Homo sapiens: one gene and its partners. The protein of the gene in region 4 interacts with the protein of the main gene of each other region in a pairwise test. Each region holds a gene or a part of one and is shown on either strand. Other genes may lie near its edges.

The links.
Region 1: the proteins of HNRNPUL1 (region 4) and MAPK1IP1L interact in binary tests that used the Homo sapiens proteins (3 or more experiments, as listed by UniProt).
Region 2: the proteins of HNRNPUL1 (region 4) and HNRNPF interact in a two-hybrid assay, tested with the Homo sapiens proteins (3 studies listed by BioGRID and IntAct).
Region 3: the proteins of HNRNPUL1 (region 4) and KLHDC7B interact in binary tests that used the Homo sapiens proteins (3 or more experiments, as listed by UniProt).

The regions. Positions count from the first base shown.
Region 1 is NC_000014.9:55,061,622-55,068,646, reverse strand, and holds part of MAPK1IP1L (MAPK-interacting and spindle-stabilizing protein-like), read right to left. Parts: intron 6,968-7,025; coding exon of another isoform or gene 6,964-6,967; coding exon 6,946-6,963; intron 6,030-6,945; coding exon 5,322-6,029; intron 4,032-5,321; coding exon 4,020-4,031; 3' UTR 1-4,019.
Region 2 is NC_000010.11:43,399,181-43,406,205, reverse strand, and holds part of HNRNPF (heterogeneous nuclear ribonucleoprotein F), read left to right. Parts: intron 1-7,025.
Region 3 is NC_000022.11:50,541,483-50,548,913, reverse strand, and holds the start of KLHDC7B (kelch domain-containing protein 7B), read right to left. Parts: upstream 3,016-7,431; 5' UTR 2,671-3,015; coding exon 1-2,670.
Region 4 is NC_000019.10:41,267,347-41,274,371, reverse strand, and holds part of HNRNPUL1 (heterogeneous nuclear ribonucleoprotein U-like protein 1), read right to left. Parts: intron 6,150-7,025; coding exon 6,027-6,149; intron 2,291-6,026; coding exon 2,137-2,290; intron 391-2,136; coding exon 317-390; intron 1-316.

The DNA of each region.
Region 1 (7,025 bases), on a different chromosome or scaffold from region 4:
CTGAACGCCACCTACAACTTTCTATGCATAGTACAATATATCAGTGTGATTTATCTGAATTTAGGCTTATGCTTTTCAAAAACTTGAATGTCTGTGCTTAAGTTTTATTTCCAGGCTTTCTAACCTTGGCATTTGATAAAGCTAGCTTCTATCATTCAGGGTGAGAAAATTGAGACATTGGCACTTATTGTTTAGAAGTGTAGGCAATTGACTGATATTCAACCCAGGCACAGTCTTGACAAAAACTCTGAGTAGAGCTTTTTTCATCTACAGTTTCAAAAGCTGTATATTTGAGAGTACCCCAGGTAGCACTAATTATTTGTGAGGTAATCATGGGCAAATTGATTGGTTTTTTAGAAAATATCCCAATAGTCCATTGTGGTGGTGGGACTGACTGAGGCAAAATATATACTTTTCTCTGCCCTATTACTATTCTCTACTGAAGACAACCAACAGTAAAATGCACAAAACAGTCAGTCCTTGGGTAATTAAAAAATGTATTGTCTATTTCTGAATAATCAATATATTACTTTACACAAAATAGGGCTGAGTCAGAGCTGTAAATGGTGTCTTCAAAAGCATGAAAAGATGAGAAAGTGGCAGGATGGGACAGACAAGCCAAGGTCTTTGAAGTGCTCCACTTGATTCTTGAGAACCGGGTGTGAATGACGACCTAAGGTCTATGTTTTAATTTTTGTCTTTTTGGTTTCAACATTTCAAAACCTAAGCTTCCAACTCCAAGAAACAGCATTCCTGAACACCTCAACTATTTCCATTAGATTTGAAAATTCTTCCTCTGAAGCCCAAATGTCAGCATATTCTATAATCTGTATCCCCCTCAAGACCAAATATACTTGCTAACAAGCAGTCTTTTCCATAAATCAGTTTCAGCCTAGCATGTCTTGTTTTGAAAGCAACATTGTTCCCTTTTAAAAAGAAAAAAAGGTCACGCATGGTGGCTCACGCCTGTAATCTCAGCACTTTGGGAGGCTGAGGCAGGCGGATCACGAGGTCAGGAGTTTCAGACCACCCTGGCCAACATGGTGAAACCCCCGTCTCTACTAAAAATACAAAAATGGGTGTGGTGGCGGGCACCTGTAATCCCAGCTACTTGGGAGGCTGAGGCAGAAGAATCGTTTGAACCTGGAGGCAGAGGTTGCAGCGAGCCAAGATCACGCCATTGCACTCCAGCCTGGGTGACAGGGCAAGACTCTGTCTCCAAAAAAAAAAGAAAAAAGGAAAAAAGCCTTTCTTGATGCTGTTCCCCATTTCTCCACTAAAACGCCTGCTTTTCTTAACTCCACACCGAACCAACCTGAAATATTTTGGCCCAGAATGCCAACAAGAATTGAAGAAAAGATGCTTTACAAAAATAACAATATAAAAGCAAATTATATTATCCCTTTTATCTCCATTCTTACATTAAAAAAAAAAAAAAAAATCGGCCGGACGTGGTGGCTCACGCCTGTAATCCCAGCACTTTGGGAAGCCAAGGCGGGCAGATCACGAGGTCAGGAGATCGAGACCATCCTGGCTAACACAGTGAAACCCCATCTCTACTAAAAAAAAAAAAAAAAAAAAATTAGCCGGGCATGGTGGCGGGCACCTGTAGTCCCAGCTGCTTGGGAGGCTGAGGCAGGAGAATGGTGTGAACCTGGGAGATGGAGCTTGCAGTGAACCAAGATAGCACCACTGCACTCCAGCATGGGCGACAGAGCGAGACTCCGTCTCAAAAAAAAAAAAAAATCTCCCCCAAATACCAGTTGCAAAGTCCTTGAAAACAAAGGGAGTACAATAGCAGTATGATTTAGGGCACACTGGACAGTATGGGTCACTAGCAAAATTATTATACTTATAGGGAGTAATAATCCCAAATTGTGTTCATGGCCCTTCAAATCCTTTAGCAACAGATTTTCTCCCAAAATCAATGGACTTCATAATTATAGATTCCCAAACCTGCTATCTCTTCTTCCTACTCAAATTATATTTGCTCCAGTGTTAAACTAAATACTGCTAATTTGTCAGCTTATCCCAATGTAGGACAGCCAAAATAACTGTAAGGAGAGCTATCTTTGCAGCCATCTCACTTTTCACATTACTTTATCCCTCCATGGTTAACTGACATTTTGATATTGATAATTCAAGCCAAGGCTACCTGCCTTGTAGACTAAGGGGGCTACTTTGACAACAGAGTTCAACAGTATTGTAGACAGCTAACACCTGTCCTTGAAGAGAAGTGAAAGAAAAAGCTAACAACATTCCGCAGTCTGAAAATATCTTAACAAATTAGTTTCTACTTTCTCATTTCTAAAAGCTTGAATCTATCATCTAGTTAACATAAGGGATGATTAAACACTGAATGTTCCTCTCAAAGGTAACCATTTTGCTTTCTTAGAAGGAGGTAGCTATCAAACCAAAAAACTGGCAGCATTTGGCATTCTTGACATTTTAATTAGAGCAGAAATAAACTACTAAATATTTTATTTCTAAGCAAAACAGAGCTCCAGCATAAATCCTGTTTGTCTGAGAAATTCACAATACATTTTAGAAATCCAATGGATACATTCAAAATGTTATCTAATAAATAACAAGGTCAGGTCTACTCCAAATCTAAGAATCTGATTTAAACATAAGGTGCCAAAAAACTACCAGGGCTTTTTTTTTTTGGTGGTTATAAACAATACTTGATATTTAAGCAACACAGTCACACTGCTTTAAACTTAGTTGCAGAGATCTACAATTTATTATTATTTTCAGTGTTAGAGCTAGAGGGTAATTTTTTCAAAGATGGCACTCAACTCCACTTATTTACCTGTCAACAAATACAGAACTGAACTGTTAGCCATAAGCACTTTACAAACAGACTCAGGAAACTATGCAGTAGACAATGACATAGCTTAACCAGACTCTGAAAAAGAGATACATATTTTGATTCACACTTGTACAAAGAGAACAGTCATGTCTGCATGACTTAAGGTTCCCTAAACACAACTGTTTTATGTTTTAGACCCCTGGAGTGTGCCAGTTTACCACATCAGGGAGGAATCAAGGGATGTGTGTGCTCCTTCTAAAGAACCAAGGGCAAGTGGGGTGGGGGTGGCTACAGGGAACGCTCTGGGCAAAAGAGCTGCCTCAGGTTTTTGTGGGAATGAAAATTACTTGTTGCAGTTAAGCAATTCCTAGGGTTTATCTAGTTTGAGGTTCAAAACAAAGGAGAGAATTATTTCCTTCCTCGAGCTCTTCCCAAAGCAATATGCACATCTCATAATCAAATCTCAAGTAGTACAAAGAGATAATCAATTATCTAAAAATTTAATTTACATACATGTTGGCCTGGATTAAAAACAAAAAAGTTAGTTTCCATAAATAGCAGACTTTAGTGCTGTATGACCCAATGACTAAAAATAAAACCAGGAAGTTTTTACTAAAAGCTCAAGGATAAAAATGAACACTGGCTGGCTATTGAACTCCACATCTGACAATAATTACTGACAGTTTAAAAATGTATATCCAAAATATAACCTCAAGAGGACCAGGTTTATTTGTCCGACAGAGCAGCTCAAAATGTTGAGGCATCATTTGTTTGGATTATGATGGGTTATTCTCGAAGTTTATTTATTTAGAAGGGGAAAGTGATTATAGAAAAATACTTGAAATAATTTGCCAATGAAGTTGCAGATTCTAACAATAATCCACATCTTAGATTTTTAAGTGTGTAGTTTCATAGTTTAAACAAATTCTGTCAAAGAACTATTCAATATACTTTATCACTTTAACTTTCCATGAAAACCAAATAAAAATCACATCCGAATGATTTACTTCTATGCTTTTATCTGATTGTATACATATGATGTACTACGCATCCAAGTACAAGAGGCAGTTATCTTCTCTGAGAGGTGCAAGAGTTGTTCTTTCATGAATGCCCTCTAATAGTGAAACCAGCAATTTTTATATATGCATTCATGTGCATATACATGTACTTCAAAAAGCAAAGCGTCATCTCTTCGTCCATTGTTAACTTAATGGTAAGACTGCAATAGAAAAAAGAAAAAGTCAACTTCTAGATTTTGCAAATGGAGTTTATTAACTCCTTACTGTGGCTTAAAGTAAATTTATTGCTTAATAAATCCAAACAGCAAGTCACATCATTTACTCTGGCATACACTTTGCAAAACAAATATTTTTAGATAATATATATAGCAAGAAAGAAATTACACTAATGCAAGGAGGAAGTTTTAGGGGTACTTTAAAGATTTCTTTTCCTTTATAGCTGGATTGGATGTTTGACTAATCTAATCAGAGATCTGGCTAGTTATTTTCGTACTAAGAGTTAACAGATTTTTTTTTTTTCCTGGCTGGGCATGGTGGCTCAGGCCTGTAATCCCAGCACTTTGGGAGGCTGAAGCAGGCGGATCACTTGAGGTCAGGAGTTCAAGACCAGCCTGGCCAACATGGTGAAACTCCATCTCTACTAAAAATACAAAAATGAGCCGGTGTGGTGGCACACGCCTGTAATCCCAGCTACTCAGGAGAATCGCTTGAACCTGAGAGGTAGAGATTGCAGCGAGCCGAGAGACTGCACTCTTGCCTGGGTGACAGAGCAAGACTGTCTCAAAAAAAAAAAAAAAAAAAAAAAAAAAAAAGAGTTAACAGATTTTTTTTCCTAAGGAAAATCTTTACTCTGCGTTTGGATACTCGTTTGGCTTACCTCACAGGGGAAGTGGGGTACTTTTCCATTTGGTTATATGACCAAGGCAGGCTCCTCAACTAAGATGTTAACCCCACACTGGGTTGTCTGACAGTAAAGCATAAAGCATTACATGTAACTGACAATAAAGAATAGGGGTGTAATCTTGAGCTCGAGAACTGCTTGAAAGATGAACATTACCTACTCATTGCCTTGGATTCTCTAAAAATCTACCTCTATCAAGCTAGACAGGTAGAGACTGCTTTTACTGAACTGTACTTTGGTGTGATGCTATAAAACAATACTGAGAAATAATAATAATAAAACAAAAAGCCCAATGAAATGAATCTCAGAGTTTACCTAAAGGATGCTATTGAGGACACTGCTTACTACATTACAAAGTCTTTGGGGATCTTTGGAAAATTCTTCTTTTTAGCACAAGGAATACTTAAAACAGTGCTTTCATCCTTTTAAATGCTTTACCTGAAGGTTTGAAATTTACTTATTTAATATACACACACCCTCTTTTAAAAACTTAAAAGCCTTCTTAATCTTCCATCCAAAACTGGGGAGAAACAATGTCAGTTGTGCTATGTACAATTAGTACACTTTAAATAACAAATTGAACACTCACATGGGGGCCACCAGGCATTGGTGGAGCACCAGAAGGTCCTGAAGGCACTTGGAAAGGATTACTGGGAGTAGGATAGAGTCCTGGTGTGGGATACGATCCTGTAGGGGCAGGATATGGTGCTGGTGGTCCCCAGGCTCCTGGTGGAACGGTGCCCCATGGAACAGGTGGTGCTGCCCCAGGGGCTTGGGGAGGAGGAGGAGCGGGATATGGGCCTGGAGATGGATATGGCATATTAGGGGTAGGATACTGCCCTCCCATTCCTGGCGCCCAAGGTCCAGAAGACATGGATCCCCATGGACCTAAAGGACCAGCTGCAGCTGGATCTGTGGGTGCACCATATGGTCTGGGTAGCTCTGGAAAGGGCATATTTGGTGTAGGATATGGCCCTGTGGGGCCAGGGCCCGGCACAGTTGGGGCTGGATAAGGACCACCAGGTGGGGGACATGATGGTCCGGAAGGAGGAAAGGGTGCTGGGGGTCCTGGAGGTGGTCCGGTGGGAGGCACGGAGGGATACATTCCTGTTGGTGCTGGTCCAAAAGGCACAGTGGAGGGTGTTGCACTTGGTGGGAGTCCAGATGGCACTGAAGATGGAGCACTCGGATTATTCCAAGGGTTGGAGCCTGGCCAGCCTTGAGGAGGTTGGCCAGGTTTTGTATTGCTCACAGCAGAGGTTTTGGCAGGGGAGTGTTCAGGTAGTGCATCTGCCAACTGGAACACAAAACAGATACGTCTTTCCTATCTAGGGAAAAGTTACATCGAACACCATTATAAACCCACAGAGAATAGTAACCTATAGGGGCAGGGATTATAAACCTCAAGAATATCTTCAAAAGCTAAGCTAGTCATTTAAAAAATACTCTATTTAACATAAACCTTGAGATGCTACTTTGCGTATCAACTTTACAGTGCAAATTCTTCAGAGAAACTCGTTTTCTAAATACAACTAATCATATTGTGCTTCATTTCTCTGCTGTATTAATACAACAAAATACAGTAATTAAGAAGATAGAACTAACAGTCAAGATATGGATTTGAATCCTGGCTTAACCTCAAAGGAGCTACATACTCTGAGATAGAGCCTCTTCAGTTTCAAAACTGTTTTAGGGTTAACTTGAGGCTTAAATATGATATTTCATGTAGTACACTTTCACAGAGTGCCTGGTATATAATAATTTCTAATAAATGTTGGCTATTAATACTATCAGGGTAAAAGAGAACAACAGAAGTAACATCTTAAATTTTCATTTAAAGAAATACATATTTTCATAAATACAGGAAACATTTCCAAACATGCTATTATCTCAGTAAACTAAGGCAAATCACCTATCAAAATCTCTTTACTACCCCCAAAGCCAAGAATCACAAAAAGCATCTCTTTTATTTATTTATAGACAGAGTCTCACTCTGTCACCCAGGCAGGAGTGCAATGGCACAATCATGGCTCACTGCAGCCTGAAACTCTTGGGGTCAAGGGATCCTCCCAAGTAGCTAGGACTACAGGTGCACACCACCATGCCTGGTTAAAGCATCTCTTTTAAGTGAAAAGATTTACGTAGCCCAGTTAGGACCATGTTGTTTTTCTTAAGAGATGAAAAACTTATCACAGATAAACTGATCAACTTACCGAAAATTCATCAGACATTTTCCTAAAAAAAGAAAAGAAATGAAGGAAGAAAGAAAAATTTCAAAATCAGTGTTCACCAT
Region 2 (7,025 bases), on a different chromosome or scaffold from region 4:
TCCTTGGAGGTGACTTCTCTAATTCCCTCTCCCCCACTGAGCTCTGGTTCTCTGCTCTTCGGGAGAACCACATTAGTTGACTCTTACTAGGTCCTAGAAGTTTTACTCCATTTTCTAATTACATGCTCAGGACTACTCCAGAAGGGCTTGCTATTAGCCCCATGTTTCAGATGAGAAAATGGAGGTTGGGAGAAGTCATGTGTCCAGGGACACAATTGGGACTTGGGACCCAGTCCCAACTGGGTCCCAAGTTGGACCGGGACACCCCTCCCCTGCCAGGGCCCTTGCCCTGTCTTAGTTGCCCTGAGCTACGGTTCTTGTGGAGGGCAACAGGGTGGGCAGAGGGAGAACTGAGCTCAGCCAAGACCGCCCTGGCTTATTTTACAGCAAATCCCAGACCAATAAGGTCTTTATTAATAAATAAATCCGCAGTATTTCTAAGAACTTTTAAAACCTAACCATGATACTGCTGTCATGCCTAAAAATACATTCCAAAATATCAAGTATCCAGGGTTTAAGTGTTTCTGTATTAAATTTTTTTTTTTTTCCGAGACGGAATCTTGCTCTTGTCACCCAGGCTGGAGTGCAGTGGCACAATCTCAGCTCACTGCAAACTCCATCTCCCGGGTTAATGCCATTCTCCTGCCTCAGCCTCCCGAGTTGCTGGGACTACAGGCGGCCGCCACCATGCCCGGCTAATTTTTTGTATTTTTAGTAGAGGCGGGGTTTCATCATGTTAGCAGGGATGGTCTCGATCTCCTGACCTCGTGATCCGCCGGCCTCGGCCTCCCAAAGTGCTGGGATTACAGGCGTGAGCCACCGCGCCCGGCATGTATTAAATATTTTAAACAGCTGGTTGGTTTGAGTCAGGATCCAAAGTCACACCTTATATTTTGTAGATAACTTTTTAAATTCAGAGCAGCACTGTCCAATAGAAATATAATGTATGCTATAAATGTAATCTTATATTCTTTAGTGGTAAAAGGAAACATGATTCATTGTATTAATAATTTAACCTAATATATATCCACTACTATTTTGCATGTAATTTTAAAACACTTTTTCATTTCTCCATGATCTTGACTAAAATAATTAAAAACAAAATCCTGTGAACTTGTCAAAATCCAGTGTGAGTTTTACACTTACACATTTCAAGCGTGGTGAATGGATGCTGTGTAAGTGATCATCTAGAGGTTCCCCTTTCTTAAAAGGCTCCATCCCCCGTTATATTTGTCGGGCTGTCTTGCAGCATTCCTTCCCCACACTTCGCATTTTTCTGATTGTTTTTCCGTGGTGGTCTTTGAGTGTCTGTTCTTTATATTTCCTGTAAAGTGATAGTTACCTCTAGAGGTAGTTTTTGGTTTTGGTTTTATTTTTGTTTTTGAGACGGAGTTTTGGTTTTGTTGCCCAGGCTGGAGTGCAATGGTGTGATCTTGTCTCACTGCCTCCTGGGTTCAAGCAATTCTCTTGCCTCAGCCTCCTGAGTAACTGGGATTACAGGGGTATTTTTAGTAGAGACGGAGTATCAACTTGTTGGTCAGGCTGGTCTCAACCTCCTGACCTCAGGTGATCCACCCGCCTCAGCCTCCCAAAGTGCTGGGATTACTGGTGTGAGCCACCGCACCCAGTCTGGAGGTAGTTTTGATTCAGATGAGAGTTTTTGGAAAGAAAACTTACTTGAGGTGCTGTGCTCCAACCGGAGGCACATATTGGTTGGTATCTTCTCTTTTGTCATGTTACAGCAGCTATTAATGATCATTATGTAGATCCATTATTTTCTTAAATGGTTTTCAAATTAGTGATATTTTAATAATCGATTCCTTTTCATTTATTAGCAGGAATACTTTTTCATGTGATCGCTCTAAGATGTACTTTTGTTTTTGTTTTCCTTTTTTTTTTTTTTTATAGACGGATTCTCACTCTGTCACCCAGGCTGGAGTGCAGTGGCAGGATCCAGGCTCACTGCAGCCTCCGCCTCCTGGGTTCAGGCGATTCTCAGGCTCGTGAGCAGCTGGGATTACAGGTGTGCAGCACCACCACGCCCATCTAATAGTAGAGATGGTGGAGTGGCAGGGGGTGGGGGGTTTCACCATGTTGGCCAGGCTGGTCTCAAACTCCTGACCTCAAGTGATCCACCTGCCTTGGCCTCCCAAAGTGCTGGGATTACAGGCGTGAGTCACCCACCACGCCCAGCCCTCCACATTTTTTTTTTTCGAGAAAGGGTTTCACTTTGATGCCCACACTGGAGTGCCCTGGTGTGGACAGAGCTCACTGCAGCCTCAACCTCCTGGGCTCAGGCAATCCTGCCTCATCCCCCCAAGTAGCTGGGATTACAGGTGTGTGCCACATGCCCAGCTATTTTTTTTTGTATTTTTTGTAGAGAAGGGGTTTTGCCATGTCGCCCAGGGTGGTCTCCTGAGCTCAAGTGATCTGCCCACCTCGGCCTCCCAAAGTGCTGGGATTACAGGTGTGAGCCACTATATATGGCCTCAGTTCTTCCTTGACATAAATTCAGCTTAGCATTTCTCATAAAACATTAAAAAAGTACCTCTATACTTTGTCTCCATTGATACATCAGTATGAGAAATTGCAGTGATTGAGTTTGAAATGATCAACTACACTTGCATTCCTGAAATCCAACTTGGTCATAATATCGCTTTATATATTGCTGGATTAGGTTGACTGATACTTGGTTTGGACTTTTGCATCTGAGTTCTTGAGTGAAATTAGCCTGTGATACTTGATTAATTGTAAAACTCTTTTGGAAATGAAAAAATCAATTCCAAGTTCATTGTAGATGTAAGTGTAAAAATTTAGAGAAGAACATCAACGCTTTGTAAGTTCAGATAACTATATGGGCTGGGGCTAGGAAAAAGATCTCTTGAAAATGACACAGGCTGGGCGGGGTGGTTCACACCTTTAATCCCAGCAGGGCCAAGGCAGGCGGATTGCTTGAGGCCAGGAGTCCAAGACCAGCCTGGCCAATGTGGCGAAACCCCATCTCTACTAAAAATACAAAAATTTGCCAGGTGTGGTGGTGTGCATCTGTAATCCCAGGCTGAGGCAGGAGAATTGCTTGAACTCAGGAGGTGGAGGTTGCAGTGAACCGAGAGTGGAATGATGGTTTGAGCTCAGGAGTTCAAGATAAGCCTGGGCAAGATGGCAAGACCCTATCTTTTCAAAAACAGAATTTTTAATTAGCCAGGTATGATAGCGAACACTTGTAAAGACATAGAGGATGCAGTGAGTTGTGATTGCAGTACTGCATACCACCCTGAGCAAGAAAGCAAGACCCCGTTTAAAAAAAAAAAGCCATCATAATTAAGAAAAGGCATGACAGATTAAGACTCCTATTAGATTTATCCTAACGGTATGCCTCCTGTTAGACAAAATGCTTCACCTAATACAAATACAGATACTCTTACTTACTGTTATATCCCGATAAATCCATCATAAGTTATTTGATTAGAATAGTGCCATCTAATAGAATTATGATGTTTATGACAAATACATATCTTTTCTAATTTAAGTTGGTGTTAGATACCATATACGATCCTCTTAAAGTACATAGAATTCAGAAGTTAGTTTTCTTGTGATGTTTTTGTCTGGTTTGGTAACACGTTGTATTAGTATGCTAGGGCTGCCATGCAAAGTAATACAGACTAGTAACAAATTTTCTCACGGTTATGGAGGCTAGAAGTCTTAAGATGAGGGTGTTGATAGGGTTGGTTTCTTTTCAGGCAGGAGAAATAATGTGAATAGTAGGAATTCCAGAAGGAGAAAAAGACACAGATGGAGGCAGCAAGAGAAGCGATAAAGGATTAGAAGTGAATTTTCCTGGCTTAAGATCCCTGTAGTTCCCATTAGGATATTTTGAAAAGACACAGCACAGGCGTGTGTTGGTAAAACTCCTAAAGTATAGAGGAAACTGCTTTGGAAAAAGTATGTCCTCCAAATCTCTTATCTTCTCCCCCATTGTTTCTGTTTTGATGTTTATTCTACTTCGTTTTCCTTTCTTTGAATTCATTACTAACTTTTAAATTTAAAACTCAGTTTTAGTTCCAGAAAGTTTTTTTTTTTAAGTTTTGTAATGGAGTGGTATCTGAAGTTGCTCTTTTTTTCCTGTTAAAATCATTATGGTTTTTGTCTAGCACTTCTTGTTCCCTGAAACCTGAGGTGTGGTATGTTATTTCTGGGTGCCGGAGCCCCTCTTCTGTAAATTGTCATGTTCCTTTCCTCCTTCCATCTCTCTGTTCTGCACAATTCCCCCAAGGCAGAATGCAGTGGTCCCCTGGGCAGCACAGCTCAGGGCCAGCAGTCTCAGCTCAGGGCCTGCTGCTTGGAACCTGACTAAGGTGTCATGTTTCCATGGAGGCTTCAGGAAGAATTCCCATCCCAAGGAATGTACCTTCCTCAGGGGGCTGAGGATACCCCACAGGCCTCCTTTCTCTCCAGCTCCAGGGTTTGACTATGCACCTATTTAGGGGCTGCTTGCTCAAGGGAGAGAGGTACAGGAGGTGGTCTGGGAAAAACAAAATTGATCTTCCTATCAATTGTATTTTTGTTTAGCGGAATCTATACACACCCATTTCTTTGGATATTATTTCCAGTTACTCCAGCTAATCCAAATAATGATATTTGCCCTCAGTTAAGAACAGATTTTATTTTTAGGAACAGAAGTCTAGTAGCAGTTTTGCTTTTTATTAACGTTTTAAGGAACATTTACCTTAGATATCATGATTCTTGGGCATTTGCAAAATGCAGTCAATATCAAACAGCAATGGTTGCTTGTTTTATGATCGGTCAGAATTTGTCCCTTATATTAATTTCAGTACAAACAGTATAGATAAAATTTATCTAACATTACATTATACTACTCTTGATGCTTTTTAGTAACACAGCTTTTGAGAAATGAACGCTGAGGGAAGCAGTGTGTTATCCCCCCAGACTTAGCTACAGCAAGTAAGTGAAAGGACCTGATAGATGGTAATGGAAAACAGCTTTCCTGTTGCATGCAGATCAGGACAGATCCCCTTTGGTGGATATAAATGTAGTAATAATGGAGTAAACATTTAAAATGTTAATATATGCTCCATCTGCAGCTTCTCAGTCTTTTTTTTTTTTGAGACGGAGTCTCGCTCTATCGCCCAGGCTGGAGTGCAGTGGTGCGATCTGGGCTCCCTGCAAGTTCCGCCTCCCGGGTTCACACCATTCTCCTGCCTCAGCCTCCTGAGTAGCTGGGACTACAGGTGCCTGCCACCACGTTTGGCTAATTTTTGTATTTTTAGTAGAGACGAGGTTTCACCGTATTAGCCCTCCTGACCTCGTGATCCACCCGCCTCGGCCTCCCAAAGTGCTGGGATTACAGGCATGAGCCACTGTGCCTGGCCACTTCTCAGTCCTTAATAGCTTTTAGGATAGCTCTGTGTATTGAATTTGGCACGTTGTGTGAATTGGGTTAGAATTCTCACACTTCAGATACATGTGCCCCTGAAAAGTTAAGTACAAATGTGTGCGTTGGTGCATTTTTTTAAATGGAATTAGTGTCTTGTATCATAATTCTTGAGTTCATGACAGCAGGAAGTACTTAAGAGTGACTGAATAGGAATTTTATAAAATTGCTGGGTTGGAAGATACTTTTGAGGCCATTAAACCCAATTTTCAATATTTCCAACAGAAAAGGAAAACATCCATAACAAATATGGTCTATGATCTGCTCACATACTATATACCATGATGGGGAATTTTTGCCCCCAAGATGCATCTTGTGCTTCTCATGTGGTGAACAGACACGAGCAGCAGAAGCTGTGTCCTAAAATTTCTTCAATCTAAAGGATTCACCACGAAATAAGAATATGAATACAAAGCATCCAGCACCAAAATGTATCCCAGTAAAGGGCTTTGGTAAAAAATATAAATAATTTGAACAAGTGTCCAGAGGGGAGATAATGTACAGAAGGAAAAAAGAATAATGGGCTTTTAACTTCTTTTTTTTCCCTCAGTTTTTATCTTTTTCCTATATAGAGATGGGAGTCTCACTATACTGCGCAGGCTGGTCTCGAACTCTCTTGGGCTCAAGTGATCCTCCCACCTCGGCCTCCCAAAGTGCTGGAGTTACAGGCTTGAGCCACTGCTCCTGGCCAGCTTCTACTTTAAACCTCAGCTATTTATCAAGGAAAAAAGAATTTCCCTTCTTTCTACATGAAATTCATCACTCAGTGTTCCCACTCACCCATGCTCCTGTCTGTTTAAATGTCACTTCCTCAGAACCCCAATCTGAGCTAATGCCTATTTTCTGTTTTTCGTTCATTCTAAAATTTGTCATCATATATTTGTACATTTCTTGATTTCCTACTCCACTGTTACTGGACCCACCAAGGCAGGAACTGTGTCTCTTTACCACTACAGTTCCTGTATCTTTTAGGTGCGTAGTATTTCTTGGTGAGTCAGTCAGTCTCCAGACTCAGTCATTTTTCTCTACATTACACATTCTTTCACATTCTTCTCCCACCAGTCTTCCTAGACTTGTTTCATTCCTTCCCATCTTGTCTCCATGTATCTCTTCCCACCATTCATTTTCCAGATAGCATCTAGACTGTTGTGTTAAAAAGCAAAACTCCTTTCACACCACATTCCATTAAATGCCTTCCCACTGGCCTTTGAACACCAAACCAGGCCTTTAAGGCTATGTCATCTCCTACCATTGATCTCAGACCTAGCTGCAGTTGCACAATACAACCCCTGGCTCAAGTCTTCTGCACACATTGTTCCCTCACAGGCAGGAACCCTATGGTGACTGATCAATAATTAAAACTTGCCTTGGGCCAGGCACAGTGGCTTATACCTATAATCCTAGCACTTTGGGAGGCCAAGGTGGATCAGTTGAGCCCAGGAGTTACAGACCAGTCTGGGCATCATAGAGAGACCTTGCCTCTACTAAAAAATTAAAAAAAAAATTAGCCCGGCTTGGTGGCATGCACCTGTGGTCCCAGCTACGTTGGGGAGGCTAAAGGTGGGAGGATCAT
Region 3 (7,431 bases), on a different chromosome or scaffold from region 4:
GTTGTCGCTCATCAGCGCGTAGGTCTCCTGCGCCAGGCCGGGCTCTCCGTGCTGCTGGGCAAAGGCCAGCACGTCCAGGCAACTGCCCAGGTCCAGCCGCCGCCGCAGGGCTGCCGCCGTGGCGGGCTCCAGGGCCCGGGAGCTGGGCTTCCGGGGCCCCTCCACCACCCCCCAACCCCCGGGCCTCTGCAGAAACACCATGAGCTTCCGGGCCTCCTCCTGCTTTTCCGTGAGCGCCCCGCTGCGGCCGGCAGGGCTGCCCCCCTCCCCCGGCGCCTCCCCTTGAGGGTCCCCCGAGGCGGCCGGCCTGACCTCCTGCTCCGAGCTCGGGGCGATTTCGCACCTGCTGCGTTTCCGTAGCTGGGGTACCGGCTGTGAGCGCCTCGCAGAGGAGGAGGCCGCGGGGCCAGGCGGCCTCTGCGCGGGGGGCTGTGCGGGGCCCCTGGGCATCGCGGCTTGGGGCAGCGGGTCTAGACTTTTCTCCCTGGTTCCCTCTCCTCTTAGGCCTGGGGGAGGGTCTGGGCTGGGCGATCCGTTGGTCTCGGAGCTTCTTGGCTGTGGCTGACCTCCAGCCTCAACCAGGCCCCCTGTACCTGTCCCTATGACTGTCCCCACTGAAGAAGAGGGGCCGTGTCTGTCCTCAGAGTGTGTGGAAGTGCTGGGACCCACGGGGCTCCCGGGAACCGCCCTCGGGACACTCCCTTGGGGCCTGTCTTGCCTGGGGAAGGGGTGGCTTCTAAGAACCATGGCAATAAGGTTTCCCCAGCTGGCTGAGACCTGCCCCTCCTGGTAGCGCCTGGGGAGAGCCACACTCTCCTGAGGCTTTGACCCGTCAGCTGGGGCAGGGGATGCGGCTGGGGTTGGGGTTGGGGCTGAGGTGGGGGCTGGGGCAGGGGATGCGGCTGGGGTTGGGGCTGGAGTTGGAGCTGGGCTTAGGGCTGGGGTTGGGACTGGGGTTAGGGCTGGGGATGCGGCTGGGGTTAGGGCTGGAGTTGGAGCTGGGCTTAGGGCTGGGGTTGGGACTGGGGTTAGGGCTGGGGATGGGGGTGTGAGGGTTGGGACTGGGACTGGGGCTGGGGCTGGAGTTGCGGCTGCAGCTGGACTTGGGGCTGGGGCTGGGGTTGAAGTTGGAGCTGAGGTTGGAGCTGGGGCTGGGGCTGAGGTGGGGGATGAGGTTGAGGTGGTGGCTGAGGTTGGTGCTGAGCTGGGGGATGAAGCCAGGGCTGGGGCTAGGACTGAGGCTGGAGCTGAAGTTAAGACTTGGGCTGAGGCTGAACTTGGGGCTGGCGCCGCTCTGAGATTTTCGCCCACGGAAGGATCCTGGGTAACCTCCAGGGGCAAAAAGTCTGAAGGAGAGGGGAGAGTCAGGGCTTCAGGTGGGAACCCCGGGCCGGGAGCTGCGGGCGGGGAGGCGGAGCGCGGGCGAGGCTCACGGCTCCGGGAGGGCGCGCGGCTGTGGCCGGCTGCAGCCGGCTTTGCTTGCTCCGGGGGCCGGGTGGGCCCCAGGTCAGCGGCAGGACTGTTATCTCGGGAGCTGTCAGCCCCGGCCTCGCCGGCATCGTAGGCCCCTGTGGCACCCGGCCCTTGGGACGAGAGTGGGCGACCTTGAGGCGGACTCTCTAGCCAGGGGCGCGTGGAGTCTGGGGCTGGGCCAAAGCTCCGGGTGCCCGGGACCTCCCTGCTGACCCAGGGCCAGCCTCCTCCGGGGGCAGGGACCCCCGAGGCCTCCCTGCTCCAGCCACCCTTGGCCCCAGAGCCTTCCGTCTGAGACCCAGGCTGCAGGGCGCGGGGAGCGGGCAGCGCCGGGAGTGCGGGCTCCTGGGCGAGTGGGGGTCCTGTGGGGAGGCCGCGCGCGTGGGCGTCCAGGGCGGCGGCCCCGTCCACCGCGTCCCACACGCTCCCCGCGGCGCCCAGGCGGAGCGGGTCCAGTTTCCGGGGGCGGCGGGCTCTGTCTCCCGAGCCAGCGTCCATCCGCCGCCGCCGGCCCCGGCCTCTCCCCATCGAGCCCGAGGGCCCCGCGCCCGCCTGCCAGGGGCCAGTGTCCTGTTGCCCCGCGGGGCCTGCGGCCTGGCGAGAGGACGCCCTGACACCACCTGTCTCCGCCTCCGCTTCGCTGCCAGGGCTCCGAGGAGTGAAGTGGATCAGGAGGGGGGCGGACATCCCCCCTGCTTCGCTCCTGCCCAGGAGGGCAGTGCCTGGCCTGGGAGGCTCCTTTCCTTCCGCTCGGGGGGCCGCGGGGGTGGCACTGCCCCGTTGCTGTCCTAATGCCTCTCTGCGGGCCTCCTCGACAGCCGTCTTGAGTGGAAGCCGGGCCATGGCGGCCAGGCCCCCGCCCGGCGCTGCAGCAGGGACAGGGCTCTGCTGGCCGCGTCCTGGGGGCTCTGGTTTCCCCTGCCCTGGGCTCTGCCCCTCGCTGCCATCACTGACCTTAGACTTCGGTTGCAGGGCCAGCTCAGCTCCTCCTGCCTGATGAGGTTGAGCCCCGAGGGCTGTGGACACCGGTTCTGCCGCCTCTTGATCGTGCCCGGAGCCAAACCAGTGTAAGGCCAGCGCTGTGGCAGCCACCACAGCCAGCGCCAGGAGGGCCAGCACAGCACTATCCCAGTCATTGTCACTGTCCCAGTCCCAGCCCCAGAGGGGACCATCTGGCTCCAAGGTGCCCTGGATCATGGTTCAGGGCTGCAATAGAGGCCTGATGGCAGGCTGGCAGTGCATGCAGAGCACAGAGGCCTGGGCTGAGGCACCGGCCAGCGCCTGCCCCAAGGGCTGCCCAGTTAAGGTGGACCAGTCCTCCAGGGCCTGGGAATGGTGGGGTCTCTGCTTGCACTCAGGCCTGGGGGTGTCAGTAGGGCCTGGCTGCAGATATCAGGAGACAGCGAGGCTTATGGCAGGATAGGAGCCCAGGGTCTCTGCAAGCACCCCACCAGCTCCTGCCCTCTTCTCCTCCTCGTAGGCCCCAGGGTCCTCAGGCAGCGTTCCTGAGCTCTGTGCTGTCATCACAGCCAACCTGCTTCTGCCTGGTAGACCCTCACACCCCTAAATTTATTCCACACCCCACAGTCCCTCCTCTCAGCCTGGGCCCAGCTTCAGGGGGCTTGGCAGGGAAGGGTTACCCACAGGGAGATGTTATCTCTAGCTCTAGCAATGTGATGTGGCCCTGATGAAATCACCAGAAACCGGAGAGGCTGATTCCACTGTGGGCCAGCAGGGGAGGGGTGGGGGCCGTGCACGGGAGGGTGCAGGCTGTGCCTGACGGTGGTCTCTCAGGCTGAAGAGGGAGACCCTGGACACGGGTCCTGGCAGTGAGCATTATCATTGCAGGGGTGCTGTGGAGGTTTGTACTGGGGCACAGGGAGGGGGCATAGAGAGGAGACTGAGGCTCCCATAGCTCCTCCTCCAGCAGCTTTTGGACTCCTTACTCTGGGTTTACCAGACATGGGATAGGGTTATCAAGTCAAGAGAAAAAAAAAATTAATGGGATAAATAAAATCCAAACATATTTCTCTCTTTATGGCCAGGCTTATTTCAGCCCACCTAGACCTTCTAGGATCTCCTGGACCCCCTGCGCCCATCGAGAGTGTCTTGACTGCCCAGATGAGACTCTCACTGTGCCCCTGGAGAACCCTGAGCCCAGCCTGCCCCCTACTCCAGTTACCGCATCAGCCAGCACCTGGATCCCTTAGAAACCACCCCCCTCTGGCCCCAGGTGCTCTAATAGCCAGACTCTGGGTGTCTTCATCTCAGTCCTCAGCCTTCCCTTATCTGAGCTGAGGACTCGCCCTCGAGACCACATCCTGGCTGGTACCTCCTAGCCCTGGCTCAGGCCGGCATGTAGGTACTTCTGTTGGATGTGAGCACTTGCTTCCTGAGGGAGAAGCCTGGGCTCCTCCACCTGCTCCTTGCTTAATCCCATCTCAGGAGTGTCTCGGGCCAGGTGCCAGGTGAGGCTCAGACAAGAAAAAGAGCCTGGAGTCCCTGGGACAAAGGCAGGGCTCCCTGGAAAGTACCGTGTGTATTTTTCCTTCCTCTGGGACACAGCAGGCCTGGGGATTTCTCCCTTACTCAAGCAGCAAGGAGATGGCCTAGGAGTGTCCCTGGCACCCAGCCTGAACCCTACTGAGCCTCAGGTAACTCACCTCCCAGCTCCCCCTGGGACTATTAGATGACAGGGAGAGGGTGAGGGTGGGCCCCATGCCTTAAGGTGGACCTCAAGTTGAGGGAAGGCTTTCTAGACCGTGCCCTTATTCTCTGTCCCAGTCTCAGGCTCTGCCTCTTGGTTAAGTTTGGGGTCCAGAAACCTTCAGAGGATGGAGATGACACCCATAAATATTAGAGACTGAGTAGGGGGCGGGAAGCGGTGGCGGCAGCGCACCCCCGGGGTGCAACTGCCCTGGAACTCCAAGTGGTGGCTTCAAAACTGGATTAAAATTTATTTCCGCGAAACCCTGGAGTCACGGTCCGGCGCCGACTGGCGTTTTCTGCCGTAGACTGAGAACGCGTCAGGGATGGCTCCGTTGGCAGCGCGCGCGAGCGCCCCCGGGCCGCGCCTGGAGGGTTGACAGCGACTCGCGGGCGAACTGTGAACCCGCAGCCCCTGGGCTCCGAGCGCAAACCTGGCGACTGGGAGGGCCCGGGGAGCGGGTGAGCCAGCGCCAGCCCCGCCGGCCCCAGGAGCGCGAATTTCTCTACATTTCCGGCTGTGGCCGCAGTTGGAGGATGGGATCAAAACGGGCAAAAAAGTGCGACCTGGGCCGAGGTGTCGGATCGCCTCGAGGTGGGAGGCCGAGGTGTTGGATCGCCTGAGGTCAGCAGTTCGAGACCAGCCTGGCCGACAGGGAGAAACCCTGTCTTTACCGAAAATAGAAAAATTAGCCGGGCGTGGTGGCGGGCGCCTGTAATCCCAGCTACTCCAGAGGCTGAGGCAGGAGAATCGCTTGAACCCGGGGAGTTGCAGTGAGCCGAGATCGCGCCACTGCACTCCAGCCTGGGTGACAGAGCCAGACTCCATCTCAAAAAAAAGAAAAAAAGACACCAGCAAAGGGTTTTTTTCTGTTAATAACTAGGTCCCCCCAACCCCCCAAAAAGGAGGATGGTTAAAAGCAGAAAAGGCAAAAAATAAAGGCTTTTGGCCGGGCGTGGTGGCTCACACCTGTAATCTCAGCACTTTGGGAGGCCGAGGCAGGCAGATCACCTGAGGTCAGGCGTTCAAGACCAGCCTGGCCAACATGGTGAAACCCCTGCTCTACTTTAAAAAAAAAAAAAAATTAGTGGGGCATGGTGCCGGACACCTGTAATACTAGCCACTCAGAAGGCTGAGGCAGGAGAATCGCTTGAACCCGGGAGGCGGAGGTTTCAGTGAGCCGAGATCGCACCGCCACACTCCAGCCTGGGCGACAGAGCGAGACTCTGTCTTAAAAAATAAAATAAATAAACTCTTTTATATTTCAAAATCTGAAGACAAATCACTGTAGTGCAGATAAAATAAAACGTTCATATCATTTTATTATTTTAACGTGTTTCATATTATTTTAACGTGTGACATTAAACAATTTCAGGGCCGGGCGCGGTGGCTCAAGCCTGTAATCCCAGCACTGTGGGAGGCCGAGACGGGCGGATCACGAGGTCAGGAGATCGAGACCATCCTGGCTAACACGGTGAAACCCCATCTCTACTAAGAATACAAAAAAATTAGCCGGGCGCGGTGGCGGGCACCTGTAGTCCCAGCTACTCGGGAGGCTGAGGCAGGAGAATGGCGTGAACGCGGGAGGCGGAGGTTTCAGTGAGCCGAGATCGCGCCACTGCACTCCAGCCTGGGCGACAGAGCGAGACTCTGTCTCAAAAAATAAAATAAATAAAATAAAGTCTGTTATATTTCAAAATCTGAAGACAAATCACTGTAGTTCAGACAAAACCTTCATACCATTTTATTATTTAACGTGTTTCATATTATTTTAACGTGTGACATGAAACAATTTCAGGAAATTGTATTAGGTATTGCGCTCGTGTCTTCTTAGGCGTCCTCATCCCTTTTCACCTCGGAGCTCAGCGTCTTCCTCAGCAGCACTTCCATGTCATCTGCCCCGTGAAATCAGCCTAACGCCGTTTCTCAATGACGTGGATCGCCCTAGGCCACCGCAACCTTCCGGAAGCTCTCTCAGCTCAGTTCCCATTCTCCCACCATCTCTTGGTTCTCCTTCTACCTCACCGGTTGCTAGTCCTCCGCTTCGCAGCTGAAAATGTGCCCGGGGCCTACTGTGGGCCTAGCCAGGCCTGCTTACGCAGTGCAGTTTCCCATGAATGATGCCCAGTCATTATCACATAACCTGTGGCAAGCCAGCAAGATGGCCCTGGTGACAGCAAAAGAAACTGCACTAGGACCTGAATGTAGATCTCAGTCATGTTCCTTACTAACAGCACGTTTTGCAACCATGCGTTAAAGAAACATCTGACTCACAACAAAATTTTAAAGGGTTTATTTGAGTGAAAAGCAATTTATGAATTGGGGAACACCTGACTGAAAGAGCGTTAGTATTCCAGAGACAAAACATCAAGTGCAAGTTTTTATTGGGAAAATGTAGAAGCACAATAAAGAAATTATTTGATTGGTTACAGTTATAGAGTTGCTTTCTTTGGCTTATCCTGTTGGAAAGTCAGTAGTTATATAATCATGATAGTTGGTTACTTATGATTGGGTAGATTAAAATTTATCTCTGTCTAATGGAAGCATTTATCAGAAACAACTCAGCCAGGCATGGTGGCTCACGCCTATAATCCCAGCACTTTGGGTGGGAGGCTGAGGTGGGCAGATCACCTGAGGTCAGGAGTTCAAGACCAGCCTGGTCAACATAGTGAAACCCCATCTTTACAAAAATACAAAAATTAGCTGGGCATGATGGCAAGTGCCTGTAATCCCAGCTACTCGGGAGGGTGAGGTGGGAGAATTGCTTGAACCCGGTAGGCAGAAGTTGCAGTGAGCCAAGATTGCGCCATTGCACTCCAGCCTGGGCAACAGAGAAGACTCTGTCTCAAAAAAGAAAAAAAAGAAATGACTCATGCCTGTAATCCCAGCACTTTGGGTGTGAGGCCGAGGCAGGGCAGATGACTAGTCTTTGAGACCAGCCTGGGCAACATAGCAAGACCTTGTCTCTACTGAAAAACAAACAAACAAAATAATGGCTCAAGTTAAGTTTCACTTATGTTTTCAATTTAAGCAAGGCTGAAGTCACTTACGAGACCTAACTTGTTTTGTCTGCTTAGGGATTCTTCAGGCCCGGTCTCCATTTTAGTTTACTTAAACAGCCCGGGTGCAGTGGCTCACACCTGTAATCCCAGCACTTTGGGAGGCCAAGGCAGGTGGATCACCTGAGATCAGGAGTTGGAGACCAGCCTGGCCAACATGGTGAAACCCCGTCTCCACTAAAAATACAAAAA
Region 4 (7,025 bases):
TCAGGGTTTTCCAGATTGCTCCTATATCCACTGAGGAGTCTCCCTGAAAATCCTCTGAGGTTAGTACAGCAGATTTACTCCTTCCTGAAGGGAAGCTCAGAGAAGTAGAATGACTTGCCCAGGGTCCCACTGCTAGAGTTGGGAGTAGGTCTTTTGCCTCCAAACCAGTACTCTTGCTCCAGAGCTAAGCCGTGTCTCACATGTGGACTAACAATGTCTTTGGACGGTGCCCAGCAGGGATTCTGGTGAAGGTCAAGACCACAATTTCCCCATACTGACTGTAAGGCAGAATTAGATGCACACTCCAAAGACTTACAGGTGTCAATAGCAACAAGGGTATCATCAAAGTCATCTTCATCCTCTTCAGCAGGAGGCTGAGGAGAGCGGCCCCTGTATTAGAAACAGGGGTTAAGTCATACAAGAACAATGGATGAGCACAAAGGAAAGAAAATGAATGTTCTGCTGTAATCTATGAGTGGCCTCCAGACTGCTTCCTGAATCTCCATTTCCTTCCACAGAGGTGGGCAAAAGAACTCTGAAACCCTACATCCTTGCAAGGAGAGCAATGACCGTCAACTCCTACGGTGGAGACAGGGATTGAAGAAGGCATGCTCTGCTGAAGGGGGGCATCAGAATCATTTAGGGAATTTTTTCACTCTTTTTTTACACCCAAAGATTCTGATCCATACCCTCTGCATGTTGACAACCACTTCCACACTGATCTCTGTTACTGTTTGGAGGCTGTGGTATCCCAAAAGGGTGCTGGCCAGGAAGGGGAATGTGCAAGAGCCTATATAAATCCCAATAATTACTATCTATCCATGTACCAGGCTTCTTAAAATCCTACATCTGTAAGAATTTGAGATGACCCATTTTTTTCAGTGTCCTAAATTATAAACGATATTCATTTTCCTACCAAAACGCTAAAAAAGGGACTTAACACTGTTGGTTTCTGCTGTACAGGAACGAGGAAGAAGGGTAGAAAGGTAGAATCTAACACTCAGGGTCCTGCCTGGACAGTCTGGGTGGTCGCAGTGCACTGCATGCACAGATGGGGAGCCCATGCCCATTTGGCTGCTGACTCTCCCAGCAGCAGGCTTCCCTCTGGTGGAGGGCCCCTCTGGCCTCGCCAGGCCAGGGCTAACATGGATGAGCTGTGCTCATCACATGTTAAGTCCATTCTAGGAAACTTTCCCTGCCAGCCCAGGATCAGAGCGAGTGTTCTTCCTTTGCTCTCCATCAGTAAGTAGCTTCCAGGCTTCTGCTCTGTGGGAGGCAGTGGAAGAACCCCATATGAGGTGGGATCCATGTCCTAACTTAAATCATAGCCTGTGAGATCCAGGCCCTGTCTCAGACAGTAACAAGCTAGTTAGAAGGTGGACTCCGCCAGATAGGAAATAGAATGTCAGATGACTAGTCCAGATGAGTACAGTGGCCATTCCTAGTTTTCATAATTGCAAAAGGCTTCAGACAGGAACTGAAGGAAGGAAGGAGGGAAGGGAAGGACTTGGTCTGGAGGGAAAGGAGGGAAGGGCTTGTTAGGGAAGGGAAATGACCAAAGCAGAGGCTGCTCCCTCTTCTGAACTCCTGAAACTCACCTGCATCCTGACTACTCACCTCAGAGGTTGTGGCTTACTAGTGTATGTGTCTGAGTCCCCACACTGGAACAACAGAAGGCAAAACCCACTGTCCATCTGTATGTTGCTAGTGTCCAGCCCAAGAGTGGGCACTTCGTGACAGCACTGTGAGAACTGACTGAATGAGTGGATGAATGGGAAGAGGATGTGTATTTGGGAGTAGTGTTAGGAAACAGATATTTCTTTCATTACGGGTATCAAGCAGCTGACTGCAGGGGCAGTAAGGCAAAGGACAGAACAGGCAGGCTGGCATCTCACGCGTGAAAGTCTAAGATATTTAGAAGTTACCCTGCAGGTAAGAAGGGAGGAACTGGGGGAAGGACCAAAAGTTTAGGAAAGCTGAATCTGGTAGCAAGTACGGGAAGGGACAGGAAGAGTGTGAAAGCAGAGGGAATCTTTACTCAGCCCCTCTAGGTTAGTGCAAATGTCCCCAGCAAGCACGAGGCTATGGATATAGAAACCTACCAGAGCAAGGGTGACTGCTGCCTCATACACCCACCTCCTATCCTCTCGGTGCTCAAAGTACCCCCGTCCCCGGTTTTCTTCATAAGGCCTCTTTCGACTCTGGAATTGCTGCCTGTCTGGCTTGAGTTGAGAAGCTTCAGGCGGGAGGAAGCTGGTGGGTGCTCCTTGCTTCATCTCTGTCTTCATTTCTATTGTCAAGACAAATTCAGATGGTCAAGACACTCGCAAGCTCCCCAGCTATCACTTTTCTGGTCCCTTTTCCCTTGAGAGATGTGAGCAGGATCCTCACTACAGTGATGAAGGGCTGGGCACAGGCAGCTTGCTGAGTTCAACAGAAGCCTGCTGAGCCAGCCAAGAAGGCCATACTGGAGAACAGGGTTAGGATCTGAGATACCATGACCCTAAATTCTCCAATTTCTCTTCCCAAAGAACCTCTCTGCCTTAGTTCTTACAAAGCTTCTTCAGTCTGGCAAGGGAGGGGGAGAGGATGAATTCAACAGGGTACTGTGGTCCTGCAGCTAACTCTACGGGCTTTAGTTACCCTACCAAAAGAGGCCAGAATCACTCCGGTTAAGCCATCCCATAGGTGCAATAACCTCTTTAAGTCATACCATTAACAGAAAGTCAGGATGGGATACCGTGCTGTGGACCACGGGTAAGTCCTAGTCTCAGGCAGACTCCAGGAATCAGTGCCTAACCAAGAGCAAACCACAGATGTAGGCTACCTTCATTTCTCCCACAGCATTAATCCCTGATGCTGAAGCTCATTCACATCTACTCATTTCTGCATTCAACCCCAGACCATTTTGGATCACTCCCCAGCTTCGGCATGTGGACCACATCTCTCAGAAAAGTCTCCTGGTTCTCTAGGGCTGGGATGGTGCTCAGCCATCCTGAAGAGAGCTTCCCTGGTTCCCAGCAATAGGTTGGGCTCACACAGGGCTCCTGATGAATGTCTGTGGATAACGGCACAGAAAATATTCTCCTGTGGCTGAATGATCCTACAAGTCTCACAGAGCCTGACACAAATCTGCGGTTTAACCTACATTCAGTAAAGTTCTGAGCCACCCACAAGAAATGTCTGGGGATTTAACTTTGTGGATGAACCAGAATGGCGTTAGACAAAATCAACCAGATACACTAAGAAAAGGCACTGGGAGGCCACAACACAGTAAAAGCAGCACAAAACTGGGGGTCAGTCCGGGCTCCATCAGTTCTCAATAGTGGGACCCTGCTTTCCAAATAGTAAGGCACAAATGATAAGGAATGCTGCTTATTAACCAAGAGGACTAGCCTGGGAGCAAGTATGCTAGGTTGTAGCCCCAGCTCTGCCATCGGACAAGCCAACTCCTCAATCTATAAAATGGGGAGGAGAGGCCAGGCGCAGTGGCTTACACCTGTAATCCCAGCACTCTGGGAGGCCGAGGCAGGCAGATCATGAGGTCAGGAGATTGAGACCATCCTGGCCAACATGGTGAAACCCCACATCTACTAAAAACACACAAAAAATTAGCTGGGTGTGGTGGCACGCCCGTAGTCCCAACTACTTAGGAGGCTGAGGCAGGAGAATCACTTGAACCTGGGAGGCAGAGGTTGCAGTGAGCCAAGATCACACCATTGTACTCCAGCCTGGGCAACAGAGCGAGACTCCATCTCAAAAAAAAAAAAAAAAAAAAGGGAAGGGAGAGTTGGCATCATGGGGAACTTTGTTCTGTAAAGACATATACTTAACATGATTGGGAAATCCTAAGTTTAAACGATACAACACAAGGTTTTTTGTCTATTTTTTTATTAAAAAAAATATTTTCAGCAACACCAGCCCAAGAAGACACAAGGTTTTTAAATTTAATTAAAAAAAAAATTTTTTTGGAGACAGAGGCTTACTGTTGCCCAGGCTGGAATGCAGTGCTGCCATCATGGCTCATGGAGCCTCAACTTCCTAGCTCAAGTGATCCTCCCACCTCAGGGTCCAGAGTAGGTGGGACTTGGCCGGGTTCAGTGGCTCACGCCTGTAACCCCAGAACTTTGGGAGGCTGAGGCGGGCGGATCACCTGAGGTCAAGAGTTTGAGACCAGCCTGGCCAACATGGTAAAACCCCGTCACTACTGAAAATACAAAAATTAGCCAGGTGTGGTGGCAGGCGCCTGAAATCTCAGCTACTTGGGAGGCTGAGGCAGGAGAATCGCTTGAACCCGAGAGGCGGAGGTTGCAGTGAGCTGAGATCGCGCCATCGCCCTCCAGCCTGGGGAACAAGAGCGAGACTTCGTCTCAAAAAAAAAAAAAGAGTAGCTGGGGCTATAGGATTGTGCAACCATGCTCAGGTAATATTTTTATTTTTTATAGAGACAGGGTTATGTTGCCCAGGCTGGTCTTGAACTCCTGGACTCAAGCAATCCTCCCACCTCAGCCTCCCAAAGTGTTGGGATTACAGGCATGTAACAGCCATCGCACTCGGCCTGTTTTTATTTTTAAGGCAAGGTCTTCCTGTCGCCCAGGCTGCAGTGCCGTGCACGATCATAGCTTACTGCAGCCTTGAACTCCTGGGCTCAAGTGATCCTCCTGACTCAGTCTTCTGAGTAGCTGGGACTACAAGCATGTCACCATGCTCAGGCAATTTTTAATTTTTTCTAAAGACAACAGGGGTCTCACTATGTTGCCAGGCTAGTCTTGGATTCCTAGGCTCAAGTGATCCTCCTGACTTGGCCTCCTAAAGCGCTAGGATTACAAGCATGAGCCACTGTGTTCTAACCTACTTTTAATTTTAGGTTTTTTTTTTTTTTTTTTTTTTTCGTGACAGGGTCTTGCACTGTCACCCAGGCTGGAGTGTAGTAGTGTAATCATAGCTCACAGCAGCCTCAAACTCCTGGGCTCAAGTGATCCTCCTACCTTTGTCTCCTGAGTAGCTTTAACTATAGGTGTGTGCATGTAGTCAGTCATAGCCATGCCTGGCTAATTTTTAAATTTTTTGTAGAGAAGGGGTCTCACTATGTTGCCCAGTCTGGTCTGGAACTCCTGGTCTCAAATGATCCTACTACCTTGGCCTCCCAAAGTGTTGGAATTATAGGTATGAGCCAGCGCACCTGGCCTGAGGCCTGACACACACTTTCTTTTTTTTTTTTTAAATTCTGGACTTCTCAGAGCCTTTAATGTTCTAACAAGCACAGTGAATTTCCAAGAGACGATATAGCACATGCTACAGTTTCCAGACACATTTGGCTAAGGAACCCTTTTCTGAGAATCCCCTAATAATATCCCCTGAAACAATAATCTTCAGAACATGAGAAATACCAGATTAGACTTAGAAGGCTCTTTCTGGCTCCCCCATTCTAAGATTCTAAATAAGATTCAAGTATTAGTCTAGGGGTCTCAACTCTCCAGGGTGCTTATACTAACATCTTTTTTTTTTTGAGATGCAGTTTCACTCTTGTTGCCCAGACTGAGTGAAGTGCAATGACGCGATCTCGGCTCACTGCAACCTCCGCCTCCTGGGTTCAAGTGATTCTCCTGCCTCAGCCTCCCAAGTAGCTGGGATTACAGGTGCCTGCCACCATGCCTGGCTAATTTTTGTATTTTTAGTAGAGACGGGTTTCACCATATTGGCCAGGCTGGTCTCGAACTCCAGACCTCAGGTGATCCACCTGCCTCGGCCTCCCAAAGTGCTGGGATTACAGGAGGGAGCCACCACACCCGGCTGATACTAACATCACTTTTTTACAGATACCATGGAACCTCCCCTCTCCCAACACTTGGAAATAGGACTGAGATCTTTCCTTTAAACAATTCTTGCCAGAGTGACAATGTTTAGATGAACTGCCCAAGAAAAAAGATGCACAGTTTCTCTGGGAAGACCCGCTCTAAGCAGGGGGTAAAGGCTCCATGTAGATTGTTTCCATCCAAAGAGATGAACCATGTGTATTTTCCTACCTGGACGATAGGCCTGCTGCTGCTCCATTTCCAGTGGTCTCCTCTCGTAGCCTGACTCGTTTTCTTGTTTGATGACTTGGGTATCGTAGAATTGGTTCTGCCTGGTAATATTGTCCATGGCATCTTAAAACAAAATTAAAAATGGCCAATTAGAGGGGCGGTTCATGAAGAACCCTGGACCAAAGCATCCAGAAGGCATCTGCAGGTCCAGGAGCTCAACTAAGAGTGGTAAGAATAATAATATTAACTATTCATGGCATGCATACTATACTCCAGAGCCTGGGATACAGCTGAAGACAAGCTTGCCCCACTGAAGCCTTCAGTTTAGTGAGACAGACAAATCTTAAAGACACACAAAAATTTAATATGATTGTGTTGAAGGCTACAAAGTAGTACCAGGAATGAAGAAAGGGACCTGGAAAATAACAGATAAGCCTTGATTCAAAGGATACACAGGTAATGACTCAGTGATGAGAATGGAGAATGTTACTGGGGTTGGGATAACACGTGTGAAAGCTCAGAGGTGGAACTAAAACCAGAAATTCCCTCAAGAACCTTGCAGCCAAACCCAGAGAGAACTTTAGAAAGCTAGGATGGGCAGCATACAGGCTCTCCTCCCCAGGGGCTAGCTCTCAGTTAGGGCCCCAAGGGCCCTACCAGTGGCTATGCCAGGAGCCGTGAGCCAGAACCAAAGGGAAGGAGAGACTATTCTGCCACTTGCTAACTGATCGGATTCCTTCTCAGAGGATAAATACATCTGGGCACAAACCAGGTGCAGCCCAAAGGGAGGAAAGTCACAGGTCATGTGGTTTGCTACCGGTCTGTTTACCAAGGTTGAAGGAGGGCTTAAGGGAGGCATGAAGGGGGCTCAAAGGACTTTGTTGTAGCAAGTAAGGGAGAGAGGAAGAAATAGCATTATCTCCTTAATTGGAATATGGGGCCCTTTCAAACTATTCTGCTGCTTCCAGGCTCCAAGCACAATGCTCCTCTTCCCACAAA